2 separate regions of the Homo sapiens genome follow, and region 2 is reported to be linked to region 1. Evidence: microRNA targets listed by miRTarBase, many of them from high-throughput screens and not tested one by one. Region 1 holds a microRNA gene; the other region holds the end of a gene's coding sequence.

Region 1 (4,000 bases):
GATTACAGGCCTGAGCCACTGTGCCCTGCCTGGGACAGATTCTATGGGCCAGTTTGCTGGGCATTCAGCCCGTGGTAGCCTCTGGTCAACTCTGCCTGCCCAGAGCTCACCTGTGAGTTTAGACTGGAGACTGGACCTCTGCACATAGAAAGGCCCCTAACAGGAAGGGGCAGATGGAGCCTGCTGGTGACAGGATGCCTGGGCTGGGCAAGGCAGGGGACCCATGCTCCCACTGAGGGTGGCGGAGATGCAGAGCACGGTGGGCCTCCTGACGGGAGGATCTTCCACACCTCCGACCAAGGACCCGTCTCCTGACCTGGCACCTGCATGCCTGACTTAGCTGGAGATCTGGGAGATGGGGAACAAGGTTGGGGAGTCTGTATTTTTAACATACTCTCCAGGTCTTTCCATTAGGCAGGCAAATTTGCCCCCCAGCGGCCTATGATAAAACACAGGACTCCTGGGAAAGAGGAAGAGAAACCTCAGCAGGAAACTGGAAAAGACTGAAATGAAGTGAAATCAATCAGAGTTAGCGCCCACCAGCCCTGGCTGCCGCTGGCTCGTGCATAAAAAGAGGGTTAGCTGGGGGAAGGCAGGGAAGGAAAGAATGTTTGCACAGCTCCCAGGGGTGGGGCAGCAGGCCAGGCAGTTGTTGATTGTGGCAGCACCTGGAGGCTCCCTGATTGGGATCAGCTCAGGCCTTCTGATAAGGCTGCCTTGAAAGCATTTTAGGGCCTTTTAAAGCAGCTGCCTTCCGGAGGGTGCAGGAGGGGGACACCTGTCTCCCCAGTACCCCCGTGTCATCTGGGGGCTTGCCTAGGACACCCTCACTAGGTGAGCTTCCTGGAGCCATCTGCCCCCCTGCTGCAGCCCCTGTGGGGTGGGAGTGTCCTCAGAAGAGGGGACCTTGCCTGCTGTGTGGCCTTGACCAAGTGATCCACTCTCTGAGCCTCAGCTTCCTCATCTGGAAACTGGAGAATACCGCGCATGTGTCAGAGGCTCATGGCGAGGATTCAGTGAGATGCTGTGTACCATGACTGGCAGAACTGCCTGGCACTCAGCTGTGTCCATTCTTTATTAGTTTCCGTAACCATTAAATGTCAGCAGCACCCTCGTGCCCCTGGCCAGAATGACTTGTCCCTTTCTCTGAAGTCCTACAGAGGCTTTGCTTAGCCCTGATCACTTTCTCTCCTGTTCTATAAACAGCAGAGCCTGGGGGTTACAGGAAATGTGTGTGGAGTCAGACTGCTCCGTACTGTGTGTCCTCTGGCTTGTGTTTTCACCTCTCTGAGCCTTGGTTTCCTCATCTTTCAAATGGGGGTAATCATTGTTCCTAGCTCTTGAGATGGTTGTGAGCAATGGATGTGTTAATCTGAGGAAGACTAAGCTGAGTGTGTGCCTCAGGTGTGCTAAGCTTGCAATAAATGTGAACGGTTGCTATCCTTGCTTTCTACCAATGGGAAGCTCAATTCACAGTAGGGGAACAGGGGGCCAGTGTACCAGGTTTTTCATCTCCAGCTCTCCCCCACCCACTGTGTTCTGAGCCTTACAGGGCAAGGGTCTGACTGGCTTGCCAAGTAGCTGAGAGGCCCCTCCAGCCTGCCCACTCAGGGTACCATCCAGGTTTTCTCAAAGGCCCCCTCCCCACTCCAATTCAGCCTCCCTAATCTGGGAAAGGGGTAGACTCCTTCATGGCTGTACCCTCCTTCTTTGCCCAGTGCCTGCCAGGCACCACCTTCCCTGCCATGATCATGGGAATGGCTGTCAATTCTTTTTTTTTTTTTTTTTTTTTTTGAGACAGAGTATTGCTCTTGTTGCCCAGGCTGGACTGCAGTGGTGCAATCTCGGCTCACTGCAACCTCTGCCTCCCGGGTTCAAGAGATTTTCCTGCCTCAGCCTCCCTGAGTAGCTGGGATTACAGATGCCTGCCACCATGCCCGGCTAATTTTTTGTATATTTTAGTAGAGATGGGGTTTCACTATGTTGGTCAGGCTGGTCTCGAACTCTGACCTCAGGCGATCCACCTGCCTCGGCCTCCCAAAGTGCTGGGATTACAGGTGTGAGCCACCGCGCCCAGCAGCTGTCAATTCTTGTGCCAGACATTGTACTAACAGCATTATGTGTGTTGCCTTGTGCAGTTGCCCCAAGAGCCCCACAGGTCGTTGTATTATTGTGCCCATTTTACAGATGAGAAAACCAAAGCTCTGAGAGGAGTGACTGGCCCAAGGACACCTAGGGAGTGGTGAGGCAGCGATTGAAACCCAAGTCTGGTGACTCCAGAGCTCATGCTCTTCTCCACTTCTAGAATGTGCCTCCCTGCTCAGAGGAAAGGCTTGGCTCTGATGAGGGTCTCTAAGGCAGCTGTCCAGCTTCCAGCTCCATCAACATCCTGAGATAATGCAATGGGAGGGTTCTACAACTCACAAACCTGCCATAAAAATGCAATCTCTGTGATAATGGTCAGAATAATGTTGTTCTAACTTAGACAAATCGGGTGTTAACTCATTATGTTGTAAGGGGCGCCTCCACAGAGAATGGAGACTACGAAACAGTCACAGGGCCATTTGCAGCTTGTACTTCCAAATACAATAGCTCATCAGGCCTTCACAGCCATCCTGAAAGGGGCAGGAGCCACGGGGCCCACTTTAGAGATGAGGAAACTGAGGTCTGGGAGATAATATGACTCGCCCAAAGCCAGCAGCGGGACCAAGCTTGAAGCCCAGGGCCAATCTTAATAGCTCATCTATCCAGTTCAAATTCTTAGCCAACATTTGAAAATCAAGAGATTTTACAGAAAAGTCCTGTTTCTGGCGTTTCTGAAAAGTCAGACAATCTGGTTTCACAGGGCCCACATTCCCACATGGCCACAGTTGGCTGGAGTGACTGCCTCTTAAGACAGAATGTGTGAGCACCAGGGGTACCTCTCTACTGACTTGCAACATACATTTGTCTTGGTGTGTTGCAAGTCGGTGGAGACGTACCCTTGGTGCTCAACCCCTGTAAGGGCTTGAGTTTGCCTCCTGGATCTGCCCCTGTTACCCTGTGTGACCTGGAGTCAATTGCATGGCTTCCCGAGCCTCAGCTCTCTCTTCTATAAAATGACAGGGGTGAGACTCAGTGATTTTGGAGGCCTCTTCCAGCTCCAGGATTCAGTGCCCATTGCCAGGGTTCAGGGGTTCAGGCAAGGGAAGGGAGAGCTACAAAAAGTACAGGACTCCACTCCTGAAAAGCATATCACTTATCTTTAGCAAGCCACCACAAAACCTACTGGCTTAAAACAATAATGATTTCTTAGTTGTCCTGATTCAGTGGATTGGCTGGGCTCAGCTGGGTGCTTATTCTGTTCCCCGGGTTGTCAGTTGGGATCACTCAGGAGGCTGCACTCAGCTAGGTTGGGCTGGAAATTCCATCGTGGCTTCACATACATCTTTGAGGCCCTCATAGAGAAGGCTGGAAGGCTGGTCCCCCTACGCTCCTCGCTATCTCCCATCCTTTGCTAGTCTAGACTGCGCCTCTATCCATGGCAATTAGCTCCCAAGATGGTGAAATGGAAACTGCAAGGCTTCTTAAGGGCTGGGCTCTAATGTCACAAAGTGTCACCCCTGCAGCCTTCTGTGGTGGTCAAAGCCAGTCACAACACCAGCTCAGATTCATCCCAGGCTTCCTCATCAGGTTCAAGGAAAAGGAAAATATACTGGGCTTGATTTTTTTGTTTTATCCTTGAAGAGAAGTCCCATTTCTTGCTCAGCTGTTCAGCATGGAAAATTTAATGGTGGGTTATCCAGCGTCCCACTCAACATGTCCTGACCCACTGAATCAGGTGACACTCAGAGTTCAGTGCCCGCCCCTGCACCCTGTTGTTGTCCATGTTTCTTGGGCCAACCTGTGGTCCAAACTTGAATCTAGACGCCCCCTTACTGGGAGGAGTGGCTTCGTGTTTAGTAGGGGGAGGAATTGTTGGCAGCCATATTTGGAGACAGCCTCTCACAGGTAGTTTATC
Region 2 (4,000 bases), not on the chromosome of region 1:
TCAATTACCATTTAGTTCATCATGAGCATTCTAATAGGTTTGGCTTTGGTATTGGCCCCAGGATGTTGCTGAGTGAGTGGCTGCCCTGCTTATACTGTTATTGAGACACAAGGGCGCATTTTCAGTCAGCATCCTAATGACCTCTTTTGAAGTCTATTAAATTAATGACCCTGTCACACTATTTTGATCTCTTATAACCTCAGTTTGGGGTTTGTATAACAAATTAATATTTGGGAACCATATGACAAAAAAAGATGATAGGTTTTTAAAAAAGTTGAAACCTTTGATATTTAGTAAAAGTTATTGTGCAAGAAATAAAAGCAAAAATGCAATATTAGGATTTGTATCTATTCTATAAAAGAGAGCCTTAGGACATTTCTCCCTACCTCTGAATGACATGCTTTTTAATTATAGTACCCAAATTAGGTTTTATCTTTAAGAGGCTGCATTTCTTCTCTAATTCTAGGTGCCAATGGGTCATGTTTGGTTAGAAGGTGACAATCTACAGAATTCTACAGATTCCAGGTGCTATGGACCTATTCCATATGGACTAATAAGAGGACGAATCTTCTTTAAGGTACCATTTTCTGCTTAAAATGTAAGGTTTATTTTCTGAGCTAGAAAAAGTTTCTCTCAAAATGATCTCTGAAATCTTCAAGCTGTCAGTGTACTTAACTGTTGCACCGAATATATTTTTTGAACCTGTTGGCCTTAACTTAATAGCCATATGCAAACCTATTCCCCCATTGCCCCTGCTCCCATAGAGATAATAATAAAATCCAAACTACCTTAGCTATAGCCTAAGAAAACTTTAATTTGAATTTCCAAAAGTTCAGTTCTCTCTTGTACAACTCTTAAAACCATGTTCACATCCTGCCCAGGGCATATTTTAATAAGCATGTGCAGAAGAACAGTCTAGATTCAAACTACCTGTAAAGTAGGGATACCCCAGTTGAGTACTGTGAGTCACAGACTTATTGTGAATGTATGATTATTAGGGAAGATTGTTTTCACTGGCCCCTCCTTTTTATCACAATCAGTGAGGAGAAAAACATTCATGAATACATGGAGCTGTTGGATAATTTACAGGATTCTTTACATTTAAAACAGATGCCATATTCAAGTACTTAAACCTAAGCCCCTTTGGTTGAAAGTACACAGTTAACTCTTACTTGCAAGTAGTAAAAGAAAACACAGACCATATATTCATACATATTTATTCACACACCACACACATATAATTTCATGTACATTGTTTGAATGTCCCAAACTTTGGAGTTTAAACATATATACACATAAGTTTATTTTCTCAAGTCTTACTTTGATGTAGAAAATTTTATTCTTGATTGATGAGTAAGGAGAAAGTGTTTATCTGGCATAGAGAAAAGGGACAGATAGCAAAAGGGAATATGATGATACTATAACATTACTTTCACTAATTGTCTTCAACCTCATTTTGATTTTACAGATTTGGCCTCTGAGTGATTTTGGATTTTTACGTGCCAGCCCTAATGGCCACAGATTTTCTGATGATTAGTAAGCATTTATTCTTTTGACTTGATTATTGTCTCCTTTTCATGTGAATTTATTACTCCCGTTGAAACCGTGTACTTACCAATAAACTATTTGCTATTCAGTTTTAGTTGTTTTTAATTGTTAAATGTAAAGAATATTCAACACACATTCTGCCAAGTTCTGTTAGTTCAAAATATATGGATAAAAATGTAACCCAAAAAAGTCATCTAAATTTTATGATACAAAAATATTGTGGGAGGGGGAACCTGGATGACTACCTCACTTTTGAATTCTTGTTCTTATAGGTATAATGAAACTAATCTATTCTTCTTAAATATACCTCATACTTTAGCAGCTACATTTACAAGTCAGAGTAGTAACTATTCGTATTTATAAGTTCAACCTGACAATGCCAGGTTTGATAAAAAGCTGCTAGTCTACATGCTCAGCCCACTCATTTGAAATTAAGTAAAAATGTTTCTAAAGGATCCCTTAAAGTTCTTTAAATGAGTTCTGACTTTTACTGTACACAAAATATTAAATACATAGAAAAATGCATCTTTAAGGCATATGCCATCTGTAGTTGGCTATAGTCAATAATACTTTATAAAAGTTCATTTCAGCATAGCAGCAGTGCAATGGCCCTGTCTTCATAAATACAGGCATTAATACTATATCTTTTTTTATTTATTTTATTTTATTTTTTTTGAGACAGAGTCTTGCTCTCTGTAGCCCAGGCTGCAGTGCAGTGGCACAACCTCGGCTCACTCTGCCTCCTGGGTTCAAGTGATTCTTGTGCCTCAGCCTCCCGAGTAGCTGGGACCACAGGCAGACACCAACGTGACTGGCTAATTTTTAAAAAAATTATTTTTAGTAGATATGGGGTTTCACCATGTTGGCCAGGGTGGTCTTGAACTCCTGACCAAAGGTGATCCGCCTGCCTTAGTCTCCCAAAGTGCTGGGATTACAGATGTGAGCCACCATGCCTGGCCCCAATATTATATCAACACTCCAAAATAAAAGGGGAAATAATGCACCAACTTCCAAGTCATTATTTTTAAAAAAGCTTCTGGCCAGGCATGGTGGCTCACGCCTGCAATCCCAGCACTTTGGGAGGTTGAGGTGGGCGGATCATTTGAGGCCAGGAGTTCAAGACCAGCCTAGCCAACATGATGAAATCCCATCTCTATTAACAAAACTTAGGCCAGGCACGGTGGCTCAAACCTGTAATCCTAGCACTTTGGGAGGTCGAGGCAGGTGGATCACCTGAGGTCAGGAGTTTGAGACCAGCCTGGCCAACATGGTGGAACCCCATCTCTACTAAAAATACAAAAATTAGCTGGGCATGGTGGTGGGCACGTGTAATCCCAGCTATTCGGGAGGCTGAGGCTGGAGAATCACTTGAACCCAGGAGACGGAGGTTACAGCGACCTGAGATCATGGCACTGCACTCCAGCTGGCGCGACAGAGTGAGACTCTGTCTTAGAAAAAAGAAATTAAAATTAAAAGCTTCCATTTCCTAAATTACATTTAAATTTGAAGATGGCAGTGTTTACAAGCTTTGGAAATACGGACCAAGATTGGAGGCAACACTTTCTACAGTTGCCACTTTGTCTTTATTAACTTTGAAATAACCTTATGAATATCCATAACCAGCCTTCCTTATGGAAGAACTGGCCTCACATTATTCACAAAGATTCTAGGTGTACAACAGCCCCATAACTTTAGCAACTAGAAACGTTATCGGTTAGACCAGAAACTTAGTAACTATAAAGGAATATGATGATACTGTTACCCACTGAAAAGAGGAGACATGCTCATATTAAGAAAATTCTTATTTTGTGTCATGGAAAAAAATGACATAATAAAGTTCTCAGATGGGAATTCACCAAATATAATCAAATCTATTTTTGTGACAACTTGTAAATATAAATTATAAATACAAATAAATAATTATATTCATTCTCTATTAATCTGAGGTGGTCTCTGCTTGATAATTGTATATTTTCTTTGCAAATAATCGGGCTGACAAATAATCCATTTCCTTGAATGGACAAAGCTCAACGGCTTCTCATCATGTCTCAATACCACAGTTAAAGCATTTCAAGTTGTGAACAATTTTAGTTATAATGAAGGAGTTCTATAATTAGTGAACATGTATCACAAGAAATCAGGCTAACTTCTTCCGCTTCATCCTTGGAAACACTGTATTTTCCACCACATCTGCAACTCAGATAAAAAGAGTGATCACCTGCAAAAGAAAACAAAATAATCTTTCAAAGACTTGTAAGTAACTACCTCACTAATACCCTTAAAAGGTGCAGAGTTTATTCCATAGGAATTGTAAAACAAAACAAAGAAGCTCAGTAAAGATAAAATGTATTTAAAGGAGAACTGGATTTCTTGAAAGGGGCAGTGTTTCTAAAAATTATCTACCAAAGAATCTTTCTCTGTAGAGGAGATGGGTTGAAGCTATGAATTAAAA

Evidence for each region. The annotated mature microRNA hsa-miR-4684-5p reads CUCUCUACUGACUUGCAACAUA and lies in region 1 at 2,922-2,943, shown strand. An mRNA with a match to its seed (bases 2 to 7 or 8) in the 3' UTR can be bound and repressed. Matches are read on the target gene's strand: a 7mer-m8 pairs with bases 2 to 8, a 7mer-A1 pairs with bases 2 to 7 and ends in A, and an 8mer does both.
Region 2: the mRNA of DNAJC24 is a reported target of hsa-miR-4684-5p. Seed matches in the 3' UTR shown: 7mer-A1 at 3,478-3,484 and 7mer-m8 at 2,830-2,836.

The regions. Positions count from the first base shown.
Region 1 is chr1:22,716,609-22,720,608 of GRCh38, forward strand. MIR4684 (microRNA 4684) reads left to right here and starts at 2,909; the gene lies at 2,909-2,990. The region is part of intron 1 of EPHB2 (EPH receptor B2); the gene reads left to right. RefSeq lists an enhancer at 556-1,245.
Region 2 is chr11:31,430,037-31,434,036 of GRCh38, reverse strand. DNAJC24 (DnaJ heat shock protein family (Hsp40) member C24) reads right to left here. Exons shown (of 5, transcript NM_181706.5): 5 at 1,202-3,766. The coding sequence ends at 3,636. It overlaps IMMP1L (inner mitochondrial membrane peptidase subunit 1), which reads left to right. Exons shown (of 6, transcript NM_001304274.2): 5 at 467-577; 6 at 1,469-1,636. The coding sequence ends at 1,537. Among named protein-coding and RNA genes, the nearest start is that of DNAJC24, 62 kb to the right of the region's middle.